6 linked regions of the Homo sapiens genome follow. The protein of the gene in region 2 purifies or fractionates together with the protein of the main gene of each other region. This does not show direct contact. Each region holds a gene or a part of one and is shown on either strand. Other genes may lie near its edges.

The links.
Region 1: the proteins of LRRC27 (region 2) and HERC4 purify together in Homo sapiens (co-immunoprecipitation; one large-scale study listed by IntAct). This does not show direct contact.
Region 3: the proteins of LRRC27 (region 2) and MAP1S purify together in Homo sapiens (affinity purification with mass spectrometry; one large-scale study listed by BioGRID and IntAct). This does not show direct contact.
Region 4: the proteins of LRRC27 (region 2) and SPECC1L purify together in Homo sapiens (affinity purification with mass spectrometry; one large-scale study listed by BioGRID and IntAct). This does not show direct contact.
Region 5: the proteins of LRRC27 (region 2) and FERMT2 purify together in Homo sapiens (co-immunoprecipitation; one large-scale study listed by IntAct). This does not show direct contact.
Region 6: the proteins of LRRC27 (region 2) and DHX32 purify together in Homo sapiens (affinity purification with mass spectrometry; one large-scale study listed by BioGRID and IntAct). This does not show direct contact.

What each region holds. Positions count from the first base shown.
Region 1 is NC_000010.11:67,956,784-67,960,283, reverse strand, and holds part of HERC4 (probable E3 ubiquitin-protein ligase HERC4), read left to right. Parts: intron 1-1,147; coding exon of another isoform or gene 1,148-1,171; intron 1,172-3,307; coding exon 3,308-3,406; intron 3,407-3,500. UniProt on the Homo sapiens protein: Probable E3 ubiquitin-protein ligase involved in either protein trafficking or in the distribution of cellular structures. Required for spermatozoon maturation and fertility, and for the removal of the cytoplasmic droplet of the spermatozoon.
Region 2 is NC_000010.11:132,342,193-132,347,623, forward strand, and holds part of LRRC27 (leucine-rich repeat-containing protein 27), read left to right. Parts: intron 1-20; coding exon 21-79; intron 80-2,305; coding exon 2,306-2,458; intron 2,459-5,431.
Region 3 is NC_000019.10:17,725,111-17,730,541, reverse strand, and holds part of MAP1S (microtubule-associated protein 1S), read right to left. Parts: coding exon 5,353-5,431; intron 4,714-5,352; coding exon 2,370-4,713; intron 1-2,369. UniProt on the Homo sapiens protein: Microtubule-associated protein that mediates aggregation of mitochondria resulting in cell death and genomic destruction (MAGD). Plays a role in anchoring the microtubule organizing center to the centrosomes. Binds to DNA. Plays a role in apoptosis.
Region 4 is NC_000022.11:24,318,457-24,323,887, forward strand, and holds part of SPECC1L (cytospin-A), read left to right. Parts: intron 1-2,831; coding exon 2,832-4,462; intron 4,463-5,431. UniProt on the Homo sapiens protein: Involved in cytokinesis and spindle organization. May play a role in actin cytoskeleton organization and microtubule stabilization and hence required for proper cell adhesion and migration.
Region 5 is NC_000014.9:52,866,444-52,871,874, reverse strand, and holds part of FERMT2 (fermitin family homolog 2), read left to right. Parts: intron 1-5,431. UniProt on the Homo sapiens protein: Scaffolding protein that enhances integrin activation mediated by TLN1 and/or TLN2, but activates integrins only weakly by itself. Binds to membranes enriched in phosphoinositides.
Region 6 is NC_000010.11:125,877,658-125,883,527, reverse strand, and holds the start of DHX32 (putative pre-mRNA-splicing factor ATP-dependent RNA helicase DHX32), read left to right. Parts: upstream 1-2,235; 5' UTR 2,236-2,703; coding exon 2,704-2,985; intron 2,986-5,870.

The sequences.
Region 1 (3,500 bases), about 64 Mb from region 2:
TTCTGTTGTCCTTTCCATGTAGAGTCATGGATGAATTACTTTCCTGGCATAGATGTGTAACAATACAGAGTATTTCTAGCCAAAGAAGCTCACCAGAACCCTGGTGCCCAGAGTTTTTACTGGGGTTCAATCACATCCTGCTCCCGTAGTGACCTCTAGTTCCCAGCTCTTCTGGAAGCAGAACTGACAGCACATGGCCCAAGCCCCTATCATAAGTCACATTGTCCAGTGGCTAAAGCGCCAGGCAAACAAAGACACTCCTATCAGGCATGATATTGCACAGGTCTATAGGTCACCTCCTAGTAACCCAGGGCAATGCCCTCTCTTCTGGGGTAAAATTAATTCCTCACAACACAAGGCACCGTCCACAAATTTAGTAACATATTTCTGAAGATTCTGGTGCTTTACACGAGTCTGTGCTCTGAGCATATGTGGAAACTTTCTACAAGAAAATGTACATTTCTGTTCAATAAAGTGGTAAGCTTTCATTATAATTTCCACTATTACTGCCTTAATAAATATATCTTTCTCTCTTCATTTCTTTTTGCTTACCAACCCTTTTTCCCTGTCCTGTACTTTCTATTTTAAATTAATTCAGTTTTAAAGAATGCTTAATGTAAGATACCTTATGTTTTACTGTTTTTTTTTCTGTCAAATAAAAACAATTTATGGCTTATTTTTTCTTACTTTGTGTCCATATGGCATTTTAATCTACTAAACACTGTCAGACATTTTGCTGAGATTTTAAAGTCTTAAAGTCTGAGGAATGTTTTTTCCATTTTTTTTAAGTAGAAAAACTGAGCCATAAATTTTTTTTTTTAAGACCAAGCCAGGCATAGGATTAGTTTTCTTATTCTGCCTAAATTCTGCAAATGGGGGTGTTTAATTGCTGAAAACAAATTTCATTATGTTCAAGCCTCAATCATTTTATGATCACAAGGTACCTGAAACAAAGATCTTACATTAGTAGATATATAAGATGCTTGTGTAGGGGGTGTATTTGATTGTAGATGTATTTTCTACCTCATTACTTCAATATTCTGCTGTAGCAAAATATATGAAATGCTACCTTGAATAGAAATAGTTAAATTTGGACACTAATATTGCTCTTTCCTCGTTATTGTTATATTCTGCACTGCTGTCTTAGGATGTCAACCATGGATTAACTGAGGTAAGTTTGGTGTAATAAAGCTCATGTTTAGAGTAAAATATACTCCATTTTCTCCTGAGTAATAGAAGAGCCAAAGATTCGTTTTTTTGGTGTGGTTAAAAAATGTAAATAAATAGATATATATGTATCATTTTTTAAAATACAGTCTGTAGAGATTATCTTGTATAACATTTCAGAAGTTTTCTGAAGAAAATGAAATTCTGTTAACATTACACCTATATGATGCCTCAACAATATTTGCTTTAGAATAGTTTCTGTCCTCCTCAAGTCTTCCAGTATAAAATGTAATGTGTCCTCAGAATATAAAAAAGCAAACTTTTATTTTAAAATTTAGCAAATGCCTACCTAATGTGGCTGAAAACATTTTATATTAGAGAAGTAAAACAAACTTCATTTTTAAAATTGATTAATTGATACTCAGAATGGTCACAAAGTTAAACTTTTTGTATGATTATCTTTCTCACTTCTAATATATAAAGTTCTAGCACTTTGGTTTAAGTAATCAACAACCCTAGACTACCCTTTTAACACTTGGGAACATTATAATACTTTCTTTATCCGTTATAGATGTCAGGTTTTGCTTTGATTTGCATTTTGTTGGTTGCTATGTTTTTCCCAGCACTTGAACCAATGAAGCATTTTGAGTTAGCTTTAAATTATAGCTCTAATATTGTTTGCTTCCTCATTGTCAAATAGAATTAGCACATAAAATTATGAAAACATAGAGTTTTGAAGCCAAAGGGTGCTTTGGAGATATCTAAATCTTTTTGAATTTCAGAGAAGTAAAATTAGTTTTTATGATCATTAGCTAGGCAGTGCCACAAATATAGGATGGAGGTAAACCTTGTCACATGAAAAATACTGAAGAGTGAATGTTTAGAATGTAATAAAATACAATTTAGGGAGAGCATGATTAGGACTTAAAATATTTAAACTACGTACACTTCCCAGCAGGGGCAAAGCAAAGACTAAATGATGCATAGTGATATATAGAAATGCAGATTCAGGCTGGGCACAGTGGCTCACGCCTGTAATCCCAGCACTTTGGGAGGCCGAGGTGGGCGGATCATGAGGTCAGGAGTTCAAGACTAGCCTGGCCAACCTAGTGAAACCCCATCTCTACTAAAAATACAAAAAATTAGCCGGGTGTGGTGACAGGCACCTGTAATCCCAGCTACTCGGGAGGCTGAGGCAGGAGAATCGCTTGAACCCCAGAGGCGAAGGTTGCCGTGAGCCTAGATCGCACCATTGCACTCCAGCCCCGGCATCAGTGCAAGACTCTGTATGGGGGAAAAAAAAATGCAGATTCAGACTATAAAGAACTGTCTAATCACTAAGAAGTGGATTGTTTTAGGGTGTATTAATTCTTCATTAGAAGTCTCATAGCAGGGGCTCTGAGTCAGGGCAGGCACAAAGATATTGTTTTACTGGGTAGATGGTAGAAGTAGGTCGTCCTCCAACTACAAGAATGTGTGACTGGCAATTCATAACTCTTTATATTTTACTGCACTATTAAAATACTTAGCAATCAATATATTACCTGCCAGGATAAGTAATTGTCTATAAAGTGTCTAATGTCTAATAATGATAATAATAGATCAGTTCTCGTAACTTTAAAGGCTAACAGAATAGTAATACTAATGGTACTTTTTTGTATATTAAGTAAATGAAGAGATTATTGGACTCATAATAATTTTGATACCCTAATGACATTATACTCAATATCTGTTAAATGAAGGAATAGACAGATTACTTATCATTAGCCTCAGTTGCTGCAGTTGCCCTAACATGTAAGAATTGGCTATCGCATTTAACATAGGAGCCCCCAATTTTAGAACAAATTTGCAACCTCATTCACTGAGATTTGCAATTAACATATGCTAAGCAAAAGATACTTGCAGTATATGATTGTATAGACTCTCAAGTATACAGTCGCCCCCTAAAATTGGGAATTGGGTTCATTCCAATGCCTCATTTAATTTTTAATAATTCTGTAAGCAGCATGTTTTATTTGTAATTCCAGAACCACATGAGTGAATAAACAAAGAATGTAGTCCACTTTATAAGAAATGTCAGCATCCACAGTAAGTATATCACAAATCAACTTGTACTAATAAGTTAATTTTTTATTTCCAGTTGGCAGATATCCCTGTTACAATCTGTACATATCCATTTGTATTTGATGCCCAAGCAAAAACTACTCTGTTACAGACCGATGCAGTCTTACAGATGCAGGTAAAATATTATTTGAGAGGGTTTTTTTTTTTAATTGTTTCTTTGATGTTTCTGGACAGTAAATATTTGAAATTTTCCTAGGATCAGTAATGAA
Region 2 (5,431 bases):
TGTTTTGTTTTGCTTTAAAGGCATTTGAAAACTTTGCTTTTAGAAAGAAATCCTATCAAAATGTTACCTGTGGAGCTGGGTAAGTATAAAATAATAAAAAGATGATTTTAAAATGCTATCTTTTGAACTTGCCAGACCTTGTAATGGAAGTATCAGGCATGACAAAGGAGGGTAAGCTAGATATTTTAAAAATCCTTCCTACTTCTAGGACCAAGATAATGTAGCTCTCAAGAACTGTTGATATAGCACGTACTGTTCTTATGGAGGTGTGACGTGTGAGCCTTGTGTGAGGCACAGTCACAGTGAGGGCCATTGGCGCCGTCACACAGCTAAGGAAACTGAAGGCCCCGCACACACCTCTGCAGGCCCTGCGTGCTGTCTCCGCTGCATCTCGCTGGCCTTCCTGGGAAGTTTTACCACTTACGTATGTTCCTAGGCCCCATCATGACCACTTTTTTAGACTTCAGAATCTAAACACTCAAAACCAAAAGCATAAACTGACAGACAAATCAAACAAGCGTAAACTATCACAGAAGCAAGTTTTATGACCTTTAAAATATCTAGCAGAAACAGTATAAATTTGTCGGACTAGTAGCCCAGGAAAAAATGTCTAAAATTCTGAAGGCATTTCTATTATGAACTTGAGAAGCATTTTGGAGAACTAATTTATGAGTACTCATTTATTTGTAAGTCACTTGCTACCATGTAGACAGTATAAAAACAGACATGTATACGCATGTATACATAAAAGTACAAACATTAAGATTGTATAGCTTTGATTTTATTTTTAGCCATGAATCAGATAAAACTCATTAGTTTAAAAGAACAGTTGAGACCACGCATAGTGGCTCATGCCTGTAATCTTAGCACCTTGGGGCGCCAAGGCAGGAGGATCCCCTGAAGCCAGGAGTTTGAAACCAGCCTGGGTAACATAGTGAGACCCCATCTCTACAAAAAATAAAATAAAATAAAATTAGCCAGGTGCAGTAGTGCATGCCTGTGTTCCTAGGTACTTAGGAGGCTGAGGCAGGAGGCTAACTTGAGCCCAGGACTTCAAGGCTGCAGTGAGCTCTGATTGCACCACTATACTCCAACCTGGACAACAGGGCGAGACCCTCTCTCTAAAAACAAAACAACAACAACAACAAAAAACAAAAATAAAAGAACAGTTAGGTTAAATTGTGCCTTTGTAAATGGAACGAGTTATGGCTGGAACCCTTACACAGTTTTAGAGAAAACAGAATAGCAAATTTACACTTCAAAGAACAGAGAGAGAATTTAAGCTTTTTAAAGAAGGAGTTTGGGTGTGTTTGAAGACTAAAAATGGATGACAAGATAATACAGAGTCACTTGCCACAGGATTTGATAAGGAAACGAATTTCATTTAGATAGGTAGCTTCTAGTTTAGTCTCTGTTTTCCAACTGGACCAGTGAGCTCAGGGCAGAGCCCATTAATGGACAGGGCCAACAAGGCATTTGCAGTTTGTAGAGCCTAATACTTAACCTACATGTGAAAAGCGAGCGCGGCTGAAAGGTGGGACACCCAAATACCCAAAATCCAAGCATCCATCTTTCACACTGAACCCTGGCTCCCTCAGATTGGGAAACGCCACAGGACTAGGGCCCCTGCAGTGCTTCCCCGTGCTCCTCATTCCGGGGACTTCGCCCTGAGCCTGGGGAGTGAGCCAGCCCCCACCAGCCCACTGCCCACCACGGGAGCCTTACCTCTCAGCGGCCATCGTTTCCAAAGCCTCCAAGTTCACATAATTTCCATTTTTAGTGACATTTCACATTTGTGGAGTCCTTGTATTCTATTTTCTTCTAATTAAACACAATTTTCTTCATTTGCTTGAACATATTTAAATGGTTGCTTTGAAGTCTTTGTTAAACCCAACATCTGGGCCTCCTCCAAGACAGTTTCCATTGTCTGCTCCGTTCCTGAGTGTAGGGTACATTTTCCTTTTCTTTGCATGTCTGGTAGTTTTTATGTGGAAAATGGGCATTTTAGATAATATAGCGACTTTGTATTCTGAATTTTACAGAATTGTGAAGGTGGTTGTGGCTGCTTCTGTTTGTTTGATTTTATTTATTTGTTTTTTGGAAACCATCCTGGTCTTAATTTGCGGAATCCGTCTCCTGCAGAGTTACCTTTAAAGCAAATCTTTGACATCTGTTAACGTGATTTTCCCCCAAATACTGAATAGAATCATATTTTAAAATGTGAAAAGTTACTATTATTTATTCCTCATTTTCATTTCAAGAATGGTATATAGAATGCTGACAGTTTTTTTTTCCTCCACTGCAGGGAGCGTAACCACGCTGAAAGCACTGAACCTAAGACACTGCCCTCTGGAATTCCCTCCTCAGCTCGTTGTGCAGAAGGGATTGGTGGCTATCCAGCGCTTCCTGCGGATGTGGGCAGTAGAACACTCTCTCCCCAGAAATCCAACTTCTCAAGGTTTGTAGGAGGTGATTTATGACAAATCACATTAACGTTGAAGTTACAGCTTTTTAAAATCAGGGCAGAACCTGTCTTCTCTTTAATAACATCCTGAGAAATACAGGAGCCATGGGTCCTCTGCTGAGTTGACACAGTGTACACTGATCTCAGGCCGACCCAGTCATCTCTGTGACTTTTCCTTGGTTCTATAAATCTGGGCACATTATAGATCCTGGCTCAAGTGGATTTTGGTAGAAGTTTATTGTGATCAATCAAATGAAACAGTTATCACCTCCAAGCCACCCGCAGGCGGCTGCTTCAGGAATGACTTGATGCTGCATTAGGCAGCTATTTTAAAATAAGTACAATGAAATATTCCTTATTCCTAACGAGGTACAAGAAATTAGCAGGAAAATGGCCCTGTAGACATGTTTTATCTAATCACCTTGTTGGTGGGTGCTCACTAACCTGTTCCATTCTTTCAACATACTGACCAGCCAGGTATTTTCAGATGCTCATGATGTGTTCTGGTCTTGAGTACGCATTGTAGTTACACTTGGAAAAGGTAAAGTTAAATTGGGATAAAGGAGAATCATAATGAAGCCTTGCCAAAAAAAGTACATATTCTGAAATATTGTCAGAATATTTAAAATTTTACTATTTGTGATGTACTTTGATACTTAAGAAAAATGCATGTTTGGAACATTAGCCAAGGTGATTATAGATGTGCTGCAATTGAAATGTGTGGGTTAGGTCTTCGTAAATAACGTGTGGCCTTGCACTTTTGACCCAGATGGACTCTATTTGGAAATTGTTTTAAATGATTAAGAGTCAGCTGTTGGCCCTGTGCTTGCTGAGTTGTTTGTAGACATATTTTAACCAGGTTATAGTGGCTGCATTGGGGCATTGCGCTGAAGCCGCCTGGCTGTGGCACCCTTGACCCCGATGCTGCCAGGATGTTGTGATAAAAATAGGAAAAGAAAAGTAGCCGCTGGACTGGCAGTGTGGAGGGCACTGGGCACCTGGCAGGAGTGGGGGCAGGTAGCTGAGGGCATGGGGTGGCCGAGGAGAGATAGGACCAGGACCTGGAGACAGCTGGGACAAGGATGGAGGGGCAGAACCGTCAGGCACAGCCGGAGCCAGGACACAGGGAGCACAGGAGACACGGACAGACCCTGCTGGAGGATCAGGATAAAAAAGAGGAGAAGTTGAAGGTTCATTCCAGTTGAAGGAGACTAAAGGAATAGGAAACTGGATGTGATGCTTCATCCTGGATTGGATCCTGGGCCAGGACAAATATGATAAAGGACATTACTGGGACAGTTATCAAGGTGTGAGGAAGGCCAGCCAGTAAATGACAGAAGTCAGCGATGGGACGCTCCTGGTTTTGGTGAATCGCTATGGCGATGTGTGAGCATCTCCATCTGAGGGTGGAGGGGCAGGATGTCTGAAGTTACCCTTGAGTGTTTTAGGAAATGCATGAGCACCCCAGACAGAGAGGCGAGGGCGGGTAGGCTCATGGGGGCAGCAGCCTCGGGGGCCAGGCACCAGCGGCTGCTGATGGGGTGCGGGGTCCATCAACTTCTCAGCGGTGTTATTGCAACTTTTCTGTAAGTTTGAAAAAAATACATTAAGTAACTGGTCAAAAATAAGTATTTTCTGACTCTTTTCTATTAGGTTTTAGGGCCACATAGAGTGATTTTTCAGCTACTATGTATATTTTTAGTACTTTGTCCTTTCAATTACTTTAAAAAGTCTTTGCTGGCGGGCGTGGTGGCTCACGCCTGTGATCCCAGCACTTTGGGAGGCCGAGGCGGGCGGATCACGAGGTCAGGAGATTGAGACCATCCTGGCTAACATGGTGAAACCCTGTCTCTACTAAAAATACAAAAAATTAGTTGGGCGTGGTCGTGGGCACCTGTAGTCCCAGCTACTTGGGAGGCTGAGGCAGGAGAATGGTGTGAACCCGGGAGGCGGAGCCAAGATGGTGTCACTGCACTCCAGCCTGGATGACAGAGCGAGATTCCGTCTTAAAAAAATAAATAAATAAATAAAAGTCTTTTTGCTGTATCCCACTCTTCCTGTTTGCTTTCATTTTCATGAATTTCAGTTTTGTCCCTGGCCCTAAATCAGTTGTCCACAGGCAGATTGGTCAAATATGCATGTTTCTAGTCACTTGTACCCCAGGGGGAATTTTACAACTTCTTAGGACGTTTTGAAGCATGTTTGCCCATTTTTTAAAACTTTTCCTTTCAAACCTAAGACCCTGAGCACGCAGCAGTCAGGAGCATGTGGCAGCCAGGGGCGTGATGTCCATGCGCCTGTGTCCACTGCGACGGCCACCTGGGGTCTCACTCAGCCTTCAGGTCGTGCTGGGCACGTGCTGGGAGAAGACTGGCCAATAGGTCCCAGTGGCTCCCAAAGTGCCTGGAGTGCCTCTCTGAGGTCGTGTTTTGAGAAAGTCAACAAAAGCATCACCAAACAAGAAAAGCAGGCATAATGGGCTAAACATTACTTAGAAACAAAGATTCTAAGTGATCTGAGGGGAAGCAGAAATGTTGATTAAATGTGGCAAGATTGCCCTGTGTACACATGCAAAAAGTCCCTCCAAAGTGGTAAGGCCTATGTGGGAAGGTCAGGCGCGCCCGGTGGGGCCTGTGTGAGAGGGTCAGGCGTGCTCAGTGGGGCCTGTGTGGGAAGGTCACGCGTGTCCGGTGGGGCCCGTGTGGGAAGGTCAGGTGTGTCTGGTGGGGCCTCTGTGGGAAGGTCAGGCGTGTCTCATGGGGCCTGTGTAGGAAGGTCAGGCGTGCTCAGTGGGGCTTGTGTGGGAAGGTCACATGTGTCCTGTGGGGCTTGTGTGGGAAGGTCACGCATGTCCAGTGGGGCCTGCATGGGAAGGTCAGGTGCACCCAGTGGGGCCTGCGTGAGAGTCAGGTGTGCTCGGTGGGGCCTGCGTGGGAGGGTCAGGTGCTCCCAGTGGGGCCTGCATCA
Region 3 (5,431 bases), on a different chromosome or scaffold from region 2:
GAGTTCAAGATCAGCCTGGGCAACATAGTGAGACTCCATCTCTACAAAACATTAAACAATTGGCCAGGCACGATGGCATGCACCTGTGTAGTCCCAGCTACTTGGGAGGCTGAGCTGGGAGGATCACTTGAGCCCAGGAAGTTGAGGCTATAATGAGCTGTGTTTGCACTACACTCCAGCATGGGTAACAGACCGAGACCCTGTCTCTAAAAAGTAAAACAAAATTTTAAAATGAGCAAAGGAATTGAATAGACATTTCTCCAAAGAAGACAGACAAATGGCCAATAGGCATATGAAAAGATGCAACATCACTAATCATTAGGGACATGGAAATCAAAACCACAATGAGATCCCACCTCACACCCATTAGACTGGCTAGCGTCAAGCAGCTGCTGTGGAAAACAGTCTGGCGGTTCATCCAAAATTAAACGTTGAGTCGGGCGTGGTGGCTTATGCCTATAATCCCAGCACTTTGGGAGGCCGAGGCCAAAGGATCACTTGAGTTCAGGAGTTCAAGACCAGCCAGGGCAACATAGTGAGACCCCAGTGCTACTGAAAAATTTTAAAATTAGCTGGGCGTAGGCTGGGCACAGTGGCTCACGTCTGTAATCCCAGTACTTTGGGAGGCCGAGGCGGGCAGATCACGAGGCCAGGAGTTCGAGACCGGCCTGACCAGCATGGTGAAACCCCATCTCTACTAAAAATACAAAAATTAGCTGGGCATGGTTGCGCATGCCTGTAATCTCAGCTACTTGGGAGGCTGAGGTAGGAGAATCGCTTGACCCCGGGAGGTAGAGGTTGCAGTGAGCTCAGATCGCACCACTGCACTCCAGCCTGGTGACAGAGCAAGACTCCATCTCAAAAAAAAATTAGCTGGCCGTTATGGTGCGTGTCTGTGGTCCCACCTGTTCGGGAGGTTGAGGTGGGAGGGTTGCTTGAACCCAGGAGGTCGAGGCTGCAGTGAGCCATGTTTGCGCCACTGCACTCCAGCCTGGATGACAGAGTGAGACTCTGTCTCAGAAAAAAAACAAAGAACAGCACAGCAGGCCAGAGACCCTCCTCTCAGCAAGGCCTGCTTAAAATGTGAGCCTTTGGCTGGTCTCTGGGAATTTGGATCTTAGGCAGAGGGTTCCCACCATTCCCTGTCTGAGAGGGGCTCCCTGTGCCTGGACTGGACCACACACCTGATTTCTCCTTTTTGGGGAGTCTAGAGTGTGGGTGCCAGGCAGAAGATGCCTATGTAATGGCCCAATAGGAAACCTGGGCATGCTGTGTCTAATGAGCTTCCATGAGGGACACACTGTTACAACTTGCTACTGGAGAAATGAAGCCTGTGGTGTGCAGCCCCACTGGGAGAGGATTCTGGAAGCTTCTGCCTGGTTTCCTTTGGACTTCACCCTATGTGCCTTTTCTCTTTGCTGATTTTGCTCTGCTATGAGTGCAACCATAGGCCGGGTCCTCCTAACCAATCAGTTACATAAAATACGCTATTTAAATTTTCAACTGTTTCATTTTACTTATTGTGGCTTCTAGAAACCCACAGTTGGCATACGTGCTCACCTGTCCAGGCACCTCAGAATGGCAAGTGCTTCAACACTGAGGTCAGTTTCCATTTCACAGGAGAAACTGAGCCCCGGAGAGGTGGGCACGGCTGAGGTCACGAAGTAATTACGAACAGGAGGACTTGGCTGGGTGCAGTGGCTCATGCCTGTAATCCCAGCACTTTGGGAGGCCAAGGTGGGCAGATCACCTGAGGTCCGGAGTTCGAGACCAGCCTGGCCAACATGGTGAAACCCCAACTCTACTAAAAATACAAAAATTAGCCAGGCGTGGTGGCAGGCACCTGTAATCCCACCTACTCGGGAGGCTGAGACAGGAGAATTGTTTGAACCCGGGAGTCAGAGGTTGCAGTCAGCCAAGATCGTGCCATTGCATTCTTGCCTGGGCAACAAGAACGAAATTCTGTCTCAAAAAAAAAAAAAAGAACAGAACTGGCAGGGCACCGTGGCTCACGCCAGTCATCCCAACACTTTGGGAGGCTGAGGTGGGCACACAGCTTGAGGCCAGGAGTTTGAAATCAGCCCAGGCAACATAGTAAGACCCTATCTCTACCAAAAACTTTAAAATTAGGCAGGGGTAGTGGCGGTGCCAGTAGTCCCAGCTACTGGAGAGGCTGAGGTGGGAGGGTGGCTTGAGCCCCATTGTTCAAGGCTGCAATGAGCTGTGACCACACCACTGCACTCCAGCTCAGAGACAGAGTGAGACCATCTCTTTTAAAAAAACTGAAAATGTAAAAACAGGGGGACGAGCTATGCTCTCCAGCCTAAGCAGCTGCTAACCCAGCCCAGGGCCCCAGCTCCAGTACTCACCCGACGGGCCTCGAGTGGCAGTCTTGGGGGTTGAGGACTTTCTGGACAGGGGTGCCCGGCCTCCCTTCTCACTGGGCTCACTCCGGGCACTGAGTGGTCGGCTGGCACGGTCCCCACCAGCAAGCCCCTTGGTTTTGGCAGCAGCCACTGGAGTGGCTTTGGGGGCGGCAGCGCGTGAGTTGGGGCGGGCCAGGGGCTTCCGGGTGCGGCTGACGTTCTCCGTTTGCCGTGCTGTCTTGGGGGGCAGCATCTCGGGGTCCACCATGCAGATGCTGGATGGGTCAGGCAGTGGTGGGGGGACCTTGAGGGGGTCAGGCAAAGGGTCGTGGCGAGGGACTCCAAAGCCCTCTGTGTCTTCGTCTGAGTCTGCCGCACCGGGGGCCAGGGGCACGGGATCCGAGTCAGACAGGGTGGGCAGGGACTCGCTGACCGATGTGGGTGGCGTCTCCTCGGCCCCCAGCCCACCTGCCCGTTCCTGTGACCGGGCACTGCTGTCATTCGAGCTGCCGGGGGACGCAGGTGCCGGTGCCATTGGCACCGCCTTGCGATGCTCAAATTCACAGGGTGACACCAGGCACAGGTCCACATCGTGTGGGGAAGCCGAGCGCCGCGCCCGGGGGCCACGCAGCGGGAGGCTCAGCCCAGCCTCACTGGTGGGGGCGGATGGCGGCAGCACCTGCTCAAAGGACACCGACAGGGACTCGTCCACCTCGGTCGAGTGCGGGGAGCCCACCTCTGCGGGTAGTGAGGGCGTGGTCACCGTGGGTGTGGTCACTGTGGGTGAGGCGTCTGGCCCGGCCTCCCCGCCCCGCAGTGGGCTCAGCGACAGCCGCTCGCTGCCCTCTGCGGGGCTCCGGTGGGACTCAGGGGAGGGTGTGCGTGGCCTTGGGATTGAGCTGGCGGCCAAAGGCAGCTCCAGTGCCTTCTCCTCCCCGGCTGGGATCGGCCCCAGCTCCAGGCTGGGCGTGGCCACCAGCTGGGAGGCCGGAGAGCCGCAGGCTGCACTGGGGGGGCTGGCTTCTCCACATCGGAGGCTGGGCGGGCTGCGGGGTCCATTTGCCACCGGCGGGAAGCCAGAGTGGGACGTGCTGGGCGCTTTGCGGGGCTTGGGTGCCGCCTGGGCATTCGTCTTCTTGAGGTTGGGCACAGAAGAGGCTGCCCGGCGCACCTCCCGCGGCTGGGTCCGGGAGACACTCGGTTTGGGGTCTTTCTTCAACTCCCGGGGGGTCTTGGCTTCTTTCTCAGTCTTGCGTGGGGCCTCAGCCCGTGCTGGCTCCTTGCGGGCCACCCCAGGGCGCTCCTGGCCAGGTCTAGGGTGGGTGGCCAGGAGGCCCTCTCTCTTCGAGCTGTCCCGGGAGCCCACGCTCTCTTTGCTCTCGGCTCGCCCCGGCCCCTCCAGGTCCTGGGGCGTCACCACGGGCTCTCGCAGGAACCTCAAGTGCTGCAGGCGGACCAGGCCGTCCAGGAGGCAGGCGGGCGGGGTGCAACCGGGGAACAGCACGCGCACCACCTTCTCGCCGGGGCCGGCGGGGTGCCACACCAGCAGGGCGCACACAGAGGCCAGCGTGCGCTCGGCGCCGGCGGAGGGCGGGTGCAGCACATACATGTCCAGCCGGCCCACGCCCATCTTCTCGAAGAGCACGGTGGGTTTGGCTGGCACGGGGCCGCGGCTGAGTGGCAGAGGCGTGATGCCCAGCTGCGCCAGGAGGCTCAGCGCCAGCTCCGCCTCATCCTCGCCGCGCGCCAGCCGCGACGCGGCCTCGCAGGCGTTGAAGAACACGACCCCCAGGTTGGGGGAGATGAGCCTGCGCAGCCTGTCGTCCCAGGAGCCCCCACCAGCAGCCACCTCGGAGCGCTCCGCCAGTTTGCGCCGCAGCAGGCTGTTGAGGCCGGGGAGGCTGTCGGCGCCAGGGTGGGTCACCAGCACGGCATCCACGCGGTCCAGGTGCCGCACCAGCTTCCAGAAACTGGACTTGGGGTTTGAGCCACCGTTGACCAGCACAGTGAAGCCATTGACGGCGAAGAAGGCGGCATCCCCGAGGCCTCCAGGGAAGATGTAGCAGCAGGGCCGGCCCAGCCTGAGGAAGCCCCCGGAGGTCGGGGGCTCCAGCAGCTCGAAGGGGGACGGTGGCTCCAGAGACTCAGCCACGTACTCCAGGAATTCGCACAGGCCCTCAGAGTTGGGCAGCTGCGCCGGGGGGTTCAGCCGCAGCTGGAGCCGGAGCGCCCCCTGAAGGCCAGGCACAGCGGGTGCCAGCTGAGCCCAGTCACCGAAGGTGGGGCAGGTGATGGTGAGTATGGGCGGCTGCACAGGTGGGGGCGTGGTGGCCAGGATGTCCCGGATCTGTATGGAGGAGGAGTGGTAAGGGACCACCTAGAGCCAGGCAACACCTAGCCCGGTGGGAAAACTGGGCGAGGACACCCTCATCCTTTCCCCCAGGGCCTGCTCCTCAGGGCCCTCCCGCCAAAACCCAACCCTCTCCAGCGCCACAAGGCTCTTTGATCTGGCCTCACCTCCTGTCTCTCCCTCCCCTTCAAATGCCTCCCTGCCCCAGGGCCTTTACACTCACCATTCTCTCCTCCCAGGGCACAGCTCCCTCCAAGGAGACTCTCCACGCCCCACCTGTCTACTGAACCTTTTCTCACCATTTTTAAGTGCCCCACTACAATGTGAAAGTGAGGTTTGCCATTTTGCCCATGTGTCCTACCCAGACTGCGGGCACCAGGAAGGACCCATTTGGCTCCATCCCTCATCAGGACTTTGGGACATCTGCTGACCTACAAACTCAGCTCACACCACACCCTTTCGCGGGCAATGGGACTGACCCCAGACAGCCAGGAGGCATGTGTCACCACTGCCATCCTACAGAGGATGGGGAGACCAGGCCATGGAAAACAGCAGGTCGCTGGTGCCACACAGCCTGATACACCCCAGTCAGGATTCAGAGCTGGGGAAGCAGGGGATGGCAAAGGGGTGGCTTACCTCTCTGTCCTTCAGGACCTGGAGGAAGTGGTGAGGCGAGAAGCCCCCTGTCTGTAGCAGCAGCTCCCCCGTCTCCTCC
Region 4 (5,431 bases), on a different chromosome or scaffold from region 2:
CCGAGATGGCAGCAGTACAGTCCAGCTTCGGCTCGGCATCAGAGGGAGACCGTGGAAAGAGGGGAGAGGGGAGAGGGAGAGCCAGATTTTCTTTTTTATAAGGATTTTTGATTTAGATAAGGATGTGGTACCACTTGCAGAACTAGGGAAAGGAATTAATGTTGGGGAAAAAAGTTACCCCAGCCAGGTGCGATGGTGCACGCCTGTAATCCCAGCACTTTAGGAGGCCAAGGTGGGCAGATCACTTGAGCCTAGGAGTTCAAGACCAGCTTGGGCAACATGCCCAATGTGGTGAAACCCCGTCTCTACAAAAAATACAAAAATTAGCTGGGTATGGTGGCGTGTGCTTGTAGTCCTAGCTACTCGGGTGGCTGAGGTGGGAGGATCACCTGAGCCTGGGAGGTAGAGTTGCCGTGAGCTGTGATGGCACAACTGCACTCTAGCCTGGGTGACAGAGCCTCAAAAAAAAAAAAAAAGTTATGCCATCTTTTTCCATTTTTGGCCTCCGTATACAGTTGTTTATCCCAGTCTGGTTACTCTTGCCTTTGATATCTGTCACAGATTTCTTGCCTCTTCTCTGTTCTTACTGCCGCCCCTGAATGTGGGACCTCTTTTACCTCATTGATCTACCTGCCCACATTCCTCCTCTGCTGCTCTGCTTTCTTCCTTATGTATTCCACTTAGAATCTGTATTAGTCCATTCTCATGCTGCTGTAAAGAACTGCCCCAGACTGAGTAATTCATAAAGAAAAGAGGTTTAATTTACTCACAGGTCCACAGAGATGGGGAGGCCTCTGGAAACTTAGAATTATGGTGGAAGGGGTAGCAGGCACATTCTTCTCCACATAGTGGCAGGAAGGAGGAGAATGAGAGCCAAGCAAAGGGGAAGCCCCTTACCATCGGCTGTCATGAGAACTCACTATCACGAGAACAGCGTGAGGGTAACTGCTTCCATGATTAAATTACCTCCCAACAGGTCCCTCCCGAAACACATAGGGATTATGGGAACTACAGTTCAAGATGAGATTTGGGTGGGGACACAGCCAAACCATATCAGTATCCTCTAGATTAATTTTCATAAAATGTACTTTTCCTTACATTTCTTTCCTACTCAGGATCATTTATTGACTTAGTGTGACTCACTGAATTCTGCCTATCTTTTGGGACTCTATATGAACATTCCCCAGCAGCTTCCGTTAACTGTGTGACTGTACTTTTCCTTTCTGTGTGCCATGTTCACTTCTGCTTCCTTTCGTTGTCTGTCTTTTTGCCAGCCTGAATTCCGCATCCTCCTGTATACCTGTTCTGTTAGTGGCTATCTCCCTCTATCTGTGGAGATCATTTGCTCCCTGTTACCTCTACAGCCTGGATCCCACCACCTAATGAACCAGCAGGGTCTTTAAAAATACTTATTGATTAGATGTGGATCTTATTTTTTAACATAAAAATTTGTTATTTCTTAAGTATTTACAGGTATTTAAACATATTCCTGGCCAGGTGCGGTGGCTCACGCCTGTAAGTGCGGTGGCTCACGCCTGTAAATTCAGTGGCTCACGCCTGTAATCCCAGCACGCTGGGAGACCGACGCGGGCAGATCATTTGAGGTCAGGAGTTTGAGACCAGCCTGGCCAACATGGTGAAACCCTATCTCTACTAAAAATACAAAAAAATTAGCCAGGCATGGTGGCACGCTCCTGTAATCCCAGCTACTTGGGAGGCCTAGGAAGGAGAATCGCTTGAACCTGGGAGTCAGAGGTTGCAGTGAGCCGAAATCGCTCCACTGCACTATAGCCTGGGTGATGGTCAAGAGAGACTCCATCTCAAAAAAAACCAAAAAAACGAACAAAAAAAACTTCCTGTTCTTTTTGTATTAAACAAATGATTGTGTCAGTTTTCACAGGTTTAAAATTTTAGTAGTTAAGTAATCATGTGATTCACGTAGATTTGATTGACGCATCATCATTATTTAACATTAGTGCTTCGTTGTTTTTTACATTTAGAGAGACAGTATAACATACTGGTTAAGGTGCAAAATCTGGAACCAGACTGCCTGGGTTTCAATTTTGGCTCATCTATTTATTACCTGTGACATGTTGGCAAATTATTTAACATCTGTGTCTGAGTTTCTTCATCTGTAAAACAAGGTGATAATAGCACCTACCTCACGTCTTTAATGAGGCTTATATAAGTTAATGTATGTGAAGTGTTAATGTATTTGTATAACCAAGTGCTAGGTATGTGTTAGCTATTGTTATAATTGTTATTATTTATGTGGCATTTTATGGTGTTAAAACTATTTTGCATTTACTTTGGTCAGAGTAAAATTTTTGTGTTTCTAGTAGGTAGCTTAGATTTTTGGTTTTCCCAGAGACTGCTTTTCCCTTCTTGCCCACCTATGATCTCCCTTCACTATCTGTGTACAGTTAGTTTACCACCGACTGGCTAATCCTGGAGTCATCTTCACCTGTCTTGCCCTAGAATATTATGCCTCTGGCCAACTGGTTAAAACCCCACTTCTGGATTCAAGTTAATGTATATCATTTAAATAACAGCTTTGTAGAAATGTAATTCACATTCCATAAAATTTACTCTTTTAAAAACATGTAAAACAAAGTGTATAACTTATTTCTCCTTGATAATTAAAAGATGAATGATCTTCTGGTTTTGAAGAAATTGAACTTTAACAGACTCTAAGGCAAGATTATTGTAGATCTAAATCATTGTGTAGATCCTGGATTTCATCTCATTACACCTGGGGCAGGAACTGTGTATTCTATGTAGCCTTTTATTGCTGACATTTTTGCCTTACATTTTTTGTATTAAACACATAGGCACAGCTTCTTCAACCAAGCGGAGCACTTCTACAGGTAATAAAGAATCCAGTTCTACTAGAGAAAGATTACGTGAACGTACCCGATTAAACCAGAGCAAAAAACTACCTTCTGCAGGTCAGGGAGCTAATGACATGGCATTGGCCAAACGTTCCCGCAGTCGAACTGCTACAGAATGTGACGTTCGTATGAGCAAGTCTAAGTCAGACAATCAGATCAGTGACAGAGCTGCTTTGGAGGCCAAAGTGAAGGATCTTCTCACGCTGGCAAAAACCAAAGACGTAGAAATTTTACATTTGAGAAATGAACTGCGAGACATGCGTGCCCAGCTGGGCATTAATGAGGATCATTCTGAGGGTGATGAAAAATCTGAGAAGGAAACTATTATGGCTCACCAGCCGACTGATGTGGAGTCCACTTTATTGCAGTTGCAGGAACAGAATACTGCCATCCGTGAAGAACTCAACCAGCTGAAAAATGAAAACAGAATGTTAAAGGACAGGTTGAATGCATTGGGCTTTTCCCTAGAGCAGAGGTTAGACAATTCTGAAAAACTGTTTGGCTATCAGTCCCTGAGCCCAGAAATCACCCCTGGTAACCAGAGCGATGGAGGAGGAACTCTGACTTCTTCAGTGGAAGGCTCTGCCCCTGGCTCAGTGGAGGATCTCTTGAGTCAGGATGAAAATACACTAATGGACCATCAGCACAGTAACTCCATGGACAATTTAGACAGTGAGTGCAGTGAGGTCTACCAGCCCCTCACATCGAGCGATGATGCGCTGGATGCACCATCCTCCTCAGAGTCGGAAGGCATCCCCAGCATAGAGCGCTCCCGGAAGGGGAGCAGCGGGAATGCCAGTGAAGTGTCCGTGGCTTGCCTGACTGAACGGATACACCAGATGGAAGAGAACCAACACAGTACAAGTGAGGAACTCCAGGCAACCCTGCAAGAGCTAGCTGATTTACAGCAGATTACCCAGGAACTGAATAGTGAAAACGAAAGGCTTGGAGAAGAGAAGGTTATTCTGATGGAGTCTTTATGTCAGCAGAGCGATAAGTTGGAACACTTTAGTCGACAGATTGAATACTTCCGCTCTCTTCTAGATGAGCATCACATTTCTTATGTCATAGATGAAGATGTAAAAAGTGGGCGCTATATGGAATTAGAGCAACGTTACATGGACCTCGCTGAGAATGCCCGTTTTGAACGGGAGCAGCTTCTTGGTGTCCAGCAGCATTTAAGCAATACTTTGAAAATGGCAGAACAAGACAATAAGGAAGCTCAAGAAATGATAGGGGCACTCAAAGAACGCAGTCACCATATGGAGCGAATTATTGAGTCTGAGCAGAAAGGAAAAGCAGCCTTGGCAGCCACGTTAGAGGAATACAAAGCCACAGTGGCCAGTGACCAGATAGAGATGAATCGCCTGAAGGCTCAGCTGGAGAATGAAAAGCAGAAAGTGGCAGAGCTGTATTCTATCCATAACTCTGGAGACAAATCTGATATTCAGGACCTCCTGGAGAGTGTCAGGCTGGACAAAGAAAAAGCAGAGACTTTGGCTAGTAGCTTGCAGGAAGATCTGGCTCATACCCGAAATGATGCCAATCGATTACAGGATGCCATTGCTAAGGTATTGTTTAAATAGATTAAAATGTTCCGGACAGCATTAGGCAGCTGCCATGCACAGTGTTTACTGAGAACCTGGGTTACTGGTTTGGTTTGGTGTGTTATTAGCTTTTTTTTAAAACTGATATTTTTAAAACTTGGGAATGGTTTCCTTTTATTGGAATAGTGTGAAAAGTATTCTTAAGATAATGTCACTTTCTCTCACTTGTATTTTGTTTCTGTTTTCCTGCCTGTGAGAGGATATGGCTGGTATTACAGCTAAAACCAGAATTTGTCCCTAGTTCTGAGTATTCCTATGGAGCGGGTCATGAAATTTTACCTCCCCCCGCCTCATCTCGAATCTGTTTTGGTGTAATAGGTGGAGAGTCAGTATTCCAGTCTGTAGCATCAGCAGTGCATGTTTCCTCTTATCTTGCTATAGTAATAGTTTTTCAAATAGAGATCTGTTGATAGTTAAAAAATATTTTTGGCATATAGAGGCTCCTGTTTCTCAGAGGCCTGTGATTTATTGCTGGCAGGGACCTTAGCAATTATCAGTCCAGACCCTTGTTGTACATGCCTCCAGCATAATAGTGAGGACTCAGTTGGAACTGCTACCCAGGGCCACTGGCATTCTGGCCAGGGATCTATCTATACCCCATGTGGTTGCTGATGAACTGTTTATTTCCATGAGTTATTCTAGTTATACTAGTTATTCTAGCTTACATTTTATTTATTTGTTATTTTAGTGCAATGATTTTAAAATAAATTTTCATATATCTTTGGCTAAAATTTGAGTAATTTAGATTTTAGGGTGTTTTTAGTGATCACTTTTAAAGTTACAGTTTAGGAGATTTGTATTAGTTCTTGGCACATACATGTTGAGAGGCTACTGTGAACTAATACTTTTGTAAAAACACTATTTGAGAATTGTTTTCCCTTTTTCAGTTTGATACTGGAACCGTCACAAATATGACATCATTTTTGTTAGGAC
Region 5 (5,431 bases), on a different chromosome or scaffold from region 2:
CACTGGTTTTCTCTTGTCCTGTCTTTTCAAATCCAAAGCTATCTCAGAACTAGGGTCTGGTATTTGGGTTGCTCATTTCCTTTCCCTCAGGGCGTTTGTGGCAGGCCTGCTTCCTACAGCCTGGGCTAAGCCTGGATGAAGCCTCAGCTATTGGCTTTGTTTTGGATTTTGTTTTTCCTTTTCTTCAGTAAGGTCTATGACCTACAGCTTAATTTTCTATTTCAGTGATTTCTTCTATTGGTTCTTCATACTGCTCTTTCACCTTTTTCATCTGATGATGCCCTGGCTCAGCTGGTAGGCGAATTTCCTCTCCAGATTAGTCTGGTTCTTCTGCAGGTAGATGGCATTCTGCTGCTCACTGTGATTTCTTTGCAGAGCGTTAATGAGCCTCTCACTTGGGGTAATACTTTTCAATAAAATCACCTGGTTCACTTTCAGTGTAGATACCACTTCTCCAGAAAGCTGTATCCCCTGAGGACCACTCTCCCGTGAGCACACACCCTTGGCACATGGCATGCCTTTTGGATGATGCAGTCAATCAGCTGGCTCTGCACTGTCTGTTCCACAGTCCTCTCACTGTATCTTCCCTTAGAAGAGCAAAGACTAAAAAACTAAAATACACTTTCTAGACTCATTTCCAATGAGACTTAGATTCCAGTCAGGTGCATTCATGGGAGACTTAAATTCGGAATAGAGCTAAGGGGTTAGAGACACAGAAAATGAAAGGAGGGAGGTATTACTAGGCGCTGGAGCTAACACCTGCAGCCATAGTCTCCTGGTTTCCCACCTGCTTGATTATAGCAAAGGTTGCGCCACCCTTGGCAAGCCAGTTCTGAGTTACTCCTAGTGGCCCAGCCCATCTCTTCTTTGGGTACATTTGTACGTACACATATTTTTGTAGATAAGGCCTTTCTAACTCGAAGTATTCCGATGTGGACAACAGCACCAGGGAAAAGGGCTCCAGACTGATTTCACAAAAATGACTCCCAAAACAATTTCATTTAACACTTAAAACACAGAGGTGCTTTTCCTGATTCATATTCCTAAATTGTACTTAGTACAGTCATGTATCATTTAACAGTAGGGATACATTATGAGAAATGTGTCACCAGGTGATTTTGTCATTGTGTGAACATTATGGAGTGTGTGTACTTACACAAACCATGATGGTATAGCTGACTGCACACCTAGGCTATATGGTATAGCCGATTGCTCCTAGGTTACAAACCTGTACAGCATTTTACTGTACTGAATACTGTAGACAACTGTAACACAATAGTAAGTATTTGTTATCTAAACATATCTAAATCTAGAAAAGGTACAACTTGGCTGGGCGCGGTGGCTCATGCCTATAATCCCAGCACTTTGGGAGGCTGAGGCGGCGGATCATCTGAGGTCGGAAGTTGGAGACCAGCCTGACCAACATGGAGAAACCCCGTCTCTACTAAAAATACAAAATTAGCTGGGCATGGTGGCATATGCCTGTAATCCCAGCTACTCAGGAGGCTGAGGCAGGAGAATTGCTTGAACCTGGGAGGTGGAGCTTGCGGTGAGCTGAGATCACGCCATTGCACTCCAGCTTGGGCAACAAGAACGAAACTCCGTCTCCAAAAAAAAAAAAAAAAAGTACACTTGTATAGAGCAGTTTCCATGAATGGGGCTTGCAGGACTGGGAGTTGCTCTGGGTGTGAATGGGTGGTGAGTGAATATGAAGGCCTAGGACATTACTATATGCTACTATAGACTTTATTCAATAATTTTCTTTCTTCAAACCTTTGCTTACTGTAACTTTATAACTACTTTTAACATCTTGACCCTTTTCTAATGACACGTAGCTTAAACATTGTACAGCTATACAAAAATATTTTCTTTATATCCTTATTCTATATGTTTTTTTGTATTTAGATTTTTATTTTTTATTTTTAACCTTTTGTTAGCTTAAATCACAGGCACACACATTAGCCTAGGCCTCCACGAGATTGGGATCATCAATATCACTGTCCTTCACCTCTGCATCCTGTCTCACTGGAAGGTCTTCAGGGGGAGTAACAAGCATGGAGCTGTCATTTCCTCTGGTAACAATGCCTTCTTCTGGAATACCCCTGAAGACCTGTCTGAGGCTGTTTTACAGTTAACTTTTTTATTTAAGTAGAAGTACTTTGTAAAATAATGATGAAAAGAATAGTATAGTAAATACATAAACCAGTAACATAGTCATTTATCATTATCAGGTATTATGTACTACTTATAATTGTACATGCTACATCTTTCTATTACTGGCAGCAGAATAGGTTTGTTTACACAGATGTGAGCTATGATACAGCTACAGTGTCACTAGGCAGTATTTTTCAGTTCCATTATAGTCTTATGAGGGCATTGTCGCTGTCGTATATGCAGTTCGTTGTTTACCGAAATGCTGTTATGCAATGCGTGACTGTATATTGTACATTAGGATAGATTTACCGTATTTCAACACAGTGTTGAAATCTGTACCCTAGTACATGAGCTCTGCCTAGTAGTCACTTAAACTATTGCTTTTAAAGTTACACAAATTTTTAAAAAATAGAAAAACTCAGTCCTGGGTAAACAATTGCTATTCCCACATTTTGGAATTCTGTAATTTACCTGAAACTCTTAATTAGGGTCACTACCTTCCTCTCTCAGTCACGGGCGTTTCACTTTTGGGTCTCTGTCATTCTTTGTTGCTCTCAGGATCTGTTGCAACCTTCTCCTGCTTCCCTCTTCAGCTGCCCAGGACCAGCGTAAATGATCCACTGTTGACTTTGAGACTAAATCTGTCTTCTGGCCCCTGTTCTCACTGTCCCTGTTATATCTTAACCTTCTTCCTGTATAACTAAGAGGTCAGGTCCTGGCATGGAATTAATAAGTTTATAAGCTGTTCTCAGTTTTCATCCCACTGCTCCCAAGTCCTCTCAAAGGACTCATCACACTGATCATTGCACTCATCACAGGCACCGCACTGATAACACCTTGACCAAGAATCAAATGGTCTGGATGCTGCTCTTCTACTAAACAAGCCCTATGATTTTTGTTGTTTCGTTTTTTGAGACTATGTTGTACACGCTTATCTCCAACTCTTGGGGTCAAGCGATCCTTCCACCTCTGCCTCCCGAGTAGCTGACACTGCAGGTGCACACCACTACACCTGGTTTAGATCTGTGATTTTGGAAAGATAGCACATCTGGGCCTATAGTATCTTCTTCTGAGAAATGAGAGTGTTAGACTGGATGCCAAGGCTTCATAGAGATCTAAAATGCAAAGTTATTAAAAATTCATTTCAGCTAATACTAAGTGAACTCCTGTGCCACAAACTGTGCTGGGTACTAGAGATACAAGGAAGAACCACTTACAGTCTCAATCCTCAGGATGGTTTAGAGCATGTTGGCGAGATAAAATTACAATTGGGGTAATAAATAGTACTTTGGAAAGGAAAGGAAAAGAGCAAGGGGTAAGGGTGTTCTATAACTTAATCTTCAGTGAGGATGGAGAGACTTCATCGGGGATGGAGAGCCAAGCACAGTGGCACATGCCTGTAATCCCAGCTACTCAGGAGGCTGAGGTGGGAGCATTACTTGAGCCCAGGAGTTCAAGACCAACCTGGGCAACATAGCCAGACCCCATCTCAAAAAAAAAAAAAATGCCTAGAGAGTTTTGTGCTGCTGGAAAATAGAATTTAAGGGGAAGGATGAATACTTCTTAATAGCTATTGAATCTGATTCCTGCTAACATGAGAGGTAGTCGCAGAAGAAACTGGCAGACATTAGATGATAAAAATGGTAAGGAGATTGCTTTTTGAACTGGCAGCAGTGACGTGTCACTGAAAGAACATTAACACAAAAATGACAAGATCCATATTTATACCAGTTATGGTGCAGAGGAGTCATTTTAGAGAGATGATAGTAATCCAAATTAAGGTAATCAACATGGGATGAGAAAAGGGGCAGATTGAATAGATACTGAGGAAGTTTGGTCAATAGTCTGGGTGACTTATTTGGGAGGAGGTTGAAGTGGGGTCATTTTTCTGATTTGTGCAATTGGGTGGATAGTGTGATACTGAGATAAGAATGTAGAAGATGAGAAGAATGTAGAAAAAGGAGCTGGGTTTGGGGGGAAAGATGAGTTTAATTTGGGGATATTTTGAATTTGAGGTGCCTGTGGGATGTCTATTTGGAGCTAGCCTGTAGACATTGGATTAGGGGAGAGATGCACATGCTACAGATACTGATAGGGTAACAGTTAGCAGTAATGGTAAGTGCAGCCATTGCAATGGTTGTCTGTAATGTGAGAAGACAAGATGAAGAATAGAACCCTGCAGATCACCCATGTTTAAGAGACAGGGCAGGTTAGAAGAAGGGGACCTTGCAAAGGAAACAAAAAAAAAATGCATAGGAAGACTATGGCAGTGAAGTATGATGAAAGCTAAGATAAAAGTTGTTTCAAAAGGACAGAGTAGTCAACAATGTCCAGTACTGTAGTAAAGTAAGGTAGTTAGGCCAACATAGTATCTAGCCATGTAGTTCATGACCTTGATAAGAACAAGTTAAGTAGACTTCAGTGGTTTATTGAGTATGGAGCCAAAGTACAGTCACTGAGAAGTAAATAAGAAACAAAAATGGCTGGGCACGGTGGTTCATGCTTATAATCCCAACATTTTGGGAGACCAAGGCAGGTGGTGGATTGCTTGAGCCCAGGAGTTTGAGAACAGCCTGGGCAACATGGTGAAACCCTGTCTCTATTTAAAAAAAAAAAAAAAAAGGAGGCAAAGCTTTTTAATGAACTTTATCTATGACAAGGAAGGGGGAAAGAGGTAACAGAAAAGGGAGGTAGGTTGTGGTGTAAGATGGGAGAGACTCAAGGAAATTAAATGCTGGTGGAAATGTGGCAGTAGAAAGAAGGAAATGTAGTGTCTGAGAGGGAGGATCTCAGTGGTGGAGCAGGGTTGCTCGGATGGTAATGAACTCAGCCCACTTGGATAGGAAAGCTGGAGGATGAGGGATGCCTCTTGCACTGCGTGGAAGCAAGGACAGCTAAGTTTATCTTGTACGGTGGCAGGAAATGGATGGACTTAACTTCTGGTGGCTTTCATTTTCTTGGAGACATAAGAGGTGGAGTTGTCCCTTGAGACCAAGTGACATTGTAGGATGTCTGAGAAGATTTGAAATAGGCATTGTTGAAAATGTCTGTATAAGCACAGAAGGATGCAAGCATAAAGGGCCCAGCTGAGGTTGGTATCCATGAATCTGTAGTGAAACCTTTTTTTCTTGCTTCTTCCCATCTTGCAGTGCTAAGCAGCCTGAGTATAGGCAAGGAAAAGTTAGAGGGATTTATTTACCTAGGGTGCAGATTTTGCTAGGAGAATGTATAATGTGAAGACAGTGAGTCTCGGCAGTTGGAGTTGATGTCCAGTGAA
Region 6 (5,870 bases), 6.5 Mb from region 2:
GAAGGTTTATGCTGCTGTGGACTGGAAGTTCAGCTTTGGTCTCTTCCCGGTGGCTTGGGCGTGGGTACCTCATAGAATGACAGCTGGTTCTAAAGAGGAGTGTTTCAAGCATGGGAATATCTTGGAAGTGATTCAGTATCACTTAACTGCATTATTTTAGTCATAGTGACACTGGTCACAGGGCCAGCTCAGATTCAAGGGGAGAGGAAATAGACTCTACCTCTCCATTTGGAACAGTGGCAAATAATCTGTGGCCATCTTTAATTCCACTATAACAGAGAAGTGGTTAAGGCTAATGTGTGTGGATACATTGCACAATGTGTGATGAAGGGGCCAGGTAAGTCTCAGGTCTTTAGAAAGAAGACTATTCAGAAAACTTGATTATTTCCTCAGGGTTCAAAGTGGTCAGTGCTTTATAAGTAAGAATTTACTGTAATTATAAGATTATTACACTCTTAGGGAGTATTATAAATAAGAGAAACATTTCTTTTTGGTAAAAATAATAGCTGTTCTTTTTTTAAGGTAAAACAGTTAAGAAATACTACCTAAGGCAATCATTGGTTATAATATTTAATAGCAATTTAATTTACATGTAGGCTGAGAACCCTTGGAAGGGATTCTAATCAGAACAAAAGAAAAATAGAATATAAAATTAAATTTTAACTTCTCTGAAGAGTGGAATTTTCTGATTCTTGGATACCTTCCCAGAATTAGCTTGTGCGATGATCTCAAGCTACCATGCTTCCTGGAGCTATTCTGTGGGTCTACTCTCACCTTATAGAGGCAGTGAAGAGTTCTGAAGTGAATCCATATTACAACATTTCTATTATGCCTTTGTAATTCCATTTTAATTTTGAAACACTGGCTTTTAGATGAATTTTTAAGAACTTTACTTGGGAAGAGCTATGAAGTTCTTCTGCCTCTCTGGTTACTTACCTCTAAACTAGCTTGTTCATCTGTGAATTTTAAAACTTTCTATCCTGCTCTTGCTGCCATCTTCAAAATATCCTTTATGTGTGTATCTAGTGCCTAGTTTACTCATCTAATAAGCCCTTAGAAGACACTCAGCAAATGTTTTTTGAGTGATTGACTGTTGCCCTGGAGCCTGTCTTGACCAATAGAGAGAGAGCTTTTCTTATCACTTACTAATTAGGAACTAGCTGTTGAGCACACTGGCTCCAACCATCTAAAGCAATAATTAAGGTAAACCAGGTGATCCGAAAAGTGCAGTAACTTACAAAATATCATGAACTGTATTTTATTATTCTTTTTAACTTGAGTTTTCTTTTTCATTTTTATCTGGTTAATGTGAAAAGGAGCTTATTTCCAGCAACACTAATGGAATTTTTCTTTTTAATCACTAGTAATTGGAAGGGGAAAGACCCTTCACCTGACATGTGGGGACTGAGTTATTGGTATAAATCTTGCTCTTTCTTGGGTGATTTCTCTTCTTCATTTAAATTAAAAGTTGTCCTTAATGGCCTCTTGGAGCTGACATGTTGGGCTCAAGACCCAGGAATCTCAAGAAATATGCTAGAGATTTCTGGTTTAATTAAACAAAAGACCTTATTAATAAAAGCCAGCCAGCTGGGCATGGTGGCTCACATTTGAAATCCCAGCACTTTGGGAGGCCAAGGAGGACAGACCACTTGAGCCCAGGAGTTCGAAACTAGCCTGGGCAACAAGGCAAAACTCCGTCTCTACAAAAAAATACAGAAATTAGCTGGACATAGTGGTGTACACCTGTAGTCCCAGCTACTCAGGAGGCTGAGGCAGGGGGAAAACAGCCTGGGAGGTTGAGGCTGCAGTGAGCCATGATCACGCCACTGCATCCAGCCTGGGTGACAGAGCGAGACCCTGTCTTTTTTATATATATATAAAATAAAAGCCAACCATAACTACATATGGAAGGAAATAATAAATTCATTCCCCTCACTTGGCTTTCTAAACTGACATAAGCAAAAGGAAAATGAAAAGTTTTAAAAATGTTTTTCATTAAAGTAAAGGATTTCTTAATAATAGATTTTCCTGTAGCCTGTGTTAGAGGAACACTCACCAGGTCATCACAGTTCTTTCCTTTTATAGGGTCCAGCTCCTCTTTTGACATGGGATTAGGTGACCACGTGATTGATTAGCCTCACAATCACAATCCTGTCCCTCCTGTTGCTTTCCATTCACAGTTGATCAAGACGCAGAGCCTGAGATAGAGGTCAGGCAGAGAGCACGAGGCCCAGTGCAGAATCATTTTCTGAACCAGCCAGGAAATACCGGAACCCACCAAACTTTAAACACCAGCCTAAATTATTCCTGTTCTTTTAAGCAGGCAGCAGAAATGACAGAAACCCGTTAACAGAAAAAAAAAAAATAATGCTTTTCATTTGAACTCCTGTGCATTTTCTTTTTAACTTATATGTGTTCCTAATTTTCCTTACTCTTTTTGTTTGTTTGTTTCTTAGTGTGGTTTATTGACAATCATTTACAATGCCGAAGAGTGCTGTAGTGAGCCAGCACAGTGGGTAACACAGCAACGGAGAACAGATGCAGGTTTGAGGAATTTAACTTGCTAAAACCTTGAACTGAAGTCTTAGAGATTGGAACATACGGGTTTGTATAAATAGGCTTTTAAGCCCTGTTTGCAATGGGTTACTGATAGGAGAAACTTGCTTGTGGAATGTCAGCTGCGTGAGCTCACTGTCAGACAAGATGGAAGAAGAAGGGCTGGAGTGTCCAAACTCTTCCTCTGAAAAACGCTATTTTCCTGAATCCCTGGATTCCAGCGATGGGGATGAGGAAGAGGTTTTGGCCTGTGAGGATTTGGAACTTAACCCCTTTGATGGATTGCCATATTCATCACGTTATTATAAACTTCTGAAAGAAAGAGAAGATCTTCCTATATGGAAAGAAAAATACTCCTTTATGGAGAACCTGCTTCAAAATCAAATCGTGATTGTTTCAGGAGATGCTAAATGTGGTAAGAGCGCTCAGGTGAGTAACCACTACAAAAAATAATTTGCTGTATGTGTTGATTTTTTAATTGTTATTTAATGACATGTCACAGCCTAGTGTTCTAATAATAGTGTCTAAAACAAAAAACAAAACATTATTCAGATAAAATAATTAAATCACGTACCTAATTTTATTAATTTTACTAATACTAGCTGAAAAGTTAATAATATCTATGTAGAAATTAATTGTGTTTAGGGTACCACTGAATTGTCTATAGAGCAGTATTAAAATTACTCAAATGATCCTAGTATTAAATTTACTCAAATGATCCATTGTGTATATGATATTTTAAAAGATGTGATGCGTGTTATTTCCTCAGCATGGGTATGGGGATTAACTGCTCTGTTTCAGTGCCCAGTGGTCTGAGAATCCAGATATGTGGATGTGCTTGCTGGTGAAGCTGGCTGAGCTACTGAAATCAAAAGCACAAGGAAATTCTGATTTTCCTGACTATAAGAAATAACTGAGCAACTAAATATGATCCAGGCCTGGGGCCACACACTTTGGGGTCTAAGATGGGGGAAAGAATTAGGATCATTAAGAGATAAACCTAGGGATATTAAAATATTAAAGAGTTGGAGCAGGCACAGTGGCTCACATCTGGAATCCCAGCACTTTGGGAGACCAAGGTGGACAGATCATTTGAGCCCAGGAGTTCAAGACCAGCCTGGGCAACATGGCAAAATGCCGTCTCTACAAAGAAGTAGCCGGGCATGGTGCTGCATGCCTGTCGTCCCAGCTACTTGGGAGGCTGAGGTGAGAGAATCACCTGAACCTGGGAAGTTGAGGCTGCAGTGAGCTGTGATGATGCCCCTGCATTCCAGCCTGGGCGATGTGAGTGAGAGACCTTGTCTCAGAAAAAAAACAAAAAAAACAAGGAGTTTGTTTGAGCAAAGAATGACTCATGAATTACGCAGCACTCAGAACCATTGGAGGTTAGTGAGCCCCATTCTAGCAGCAAGGGCAGTGAGCTTTTATAGGCTGAACATGAAAGTAAGACAAAAGACATTTAAATTGGTTAGAGTGGAAAGTTCCGAGTTAGGGAATAGTTGGCAGTTTCTGATTGATAAAGTCTAGTATGGTTTTACTGTTTACATTGGACTTTAGTTTGCTTATGTGGGACCTTCTAGAGCTCTGTCATTGCCTCAGCCTAATGGCCTCTCAATTAAAGTTTGTTTGTTTGTTTAACGGGATAGTGGGCCAGGTGCAGTGGTTCACACCTATAATCCCATCACTTTGGGAGGCTGAGGCAGGAGGATTGCTTGAGTCCAGCAGTTTGAGACCAGGCTGGGCAACATGGCAAGATCCCAACTTTATAAAAAATTAAAAAATTAGCTGGGCATGGTGGTGCGTGCCTGTGGTCCCAGCTACCCAAGAGGCTGAGGCAGAAGGATCACTTGAGCCCATGAGGTCAAGGCTGCAGTGAGCCATGTTCATGCCACTGTACTTCAGCCTGGGCAACAGAGCAAGACCCCGTCTCAAAAAAAAAAAAAAAAAAAAAAAAAACAAGAAAAGGCTGGGCGCTGTGGCTCATGCCTGTAATCTCAGCACTTTGGGAGGCCGAGACGGGCAGATCATGAAGTCAGGAGTTCGAGACCAGCCTGTCCAATATGGTGAAACCCTGACTCTACTAAAAAATACAAAAATTAGCTGGGCATGGTGATGCACACCTGTAGTCCCAGCTCCTTGGGAGGCTGAGGCAGGAGAATCACTTGAACCCAGGAGGTGGAGGTTGCAGTGAGCTGAGATTGTGTCACTGCACTCCAGCCTGGGTGACAGAGTAAGACTCCATCTCAAAAAAAAAAAGAAAACAAAACAAAACAAAAAAAAACACCAAGAAAAACAAGGTAGTGTAGAGAAGGAAAAAGTAATAATTTTCTCTGTCCTTCATAACTCTTATCTGAGGCTCCCTGTAACAAAAGACAAATTAACAGAAGAAAAACAGAAGTGTATTAATATGTATGCCTCATGTATACACGGGAAAACCCCAGAGAAATGAGCAAGTCTCTAGAGTAGATCTCAAAGAAAGCATTTAAATTTTGGGCTTAAATACCATCATTCTCTGAAACAAAGTAAAAAAGGTTGTGGGGAACAACCCTGTTAAGATGAGATGGCCAGGAAAAGCACCTTAAATGAAGGTGAAGTTTGTTATGAAGATGTAAGTCGATGTCTTCTTTACTTAGTCATCTCCTCCTGTTGCAGAGAGGGAGATGCCCTTATAAGCAGAGATTTCTTGTATAGGCACAAATTTATCTTTAAAAAGGTAACTTTTCAGAGCTACTCCTATGTCTACACTTTCTCAAAATGTGCAAAGGAGGCATATTTTGGGGTCACATATTCTGGTCTCCTTCAGTCATATTCTGGGGAGGTATGTCCTGAGCCCCAACATTAGATAGTTAATAAATACTTATTATTCAGTTTGTTGTTGTATTTGGACTTCAAGTTTTTGTTCAAGTGAGATCCATATTTTACTCTTAAGTTTTAAAGCAAGCAACCAGTATTTTTATCATGAAATTCATTTCTAGATTCTCGCGATGTAAGAATTAGAATAGACCATATAGTGTGAATAATAAGAAGTCCCATTTCTCATAGAGAAGTTACGAATAGATCTAGTAGAATAGACTATGCTCTAATAGAATAGAATTAGAAACTGATGGAACCCCTTCATTTTTCAGATGAATAAACTGTGGCCCAGAAGGATTTGATAATTTGTCTATCTAATGTCAGTAGCTTTCTGAATTGGAGTTAAAAGAATATTTTCTACTATAAATTGTTGCTTTCAAGTTGTTTATTATCTCTAGAGTTTACCTATTTTATTATCACTATTATTTTTTGAGACAGAGAGGCTCGTTCTGTCACCCAGG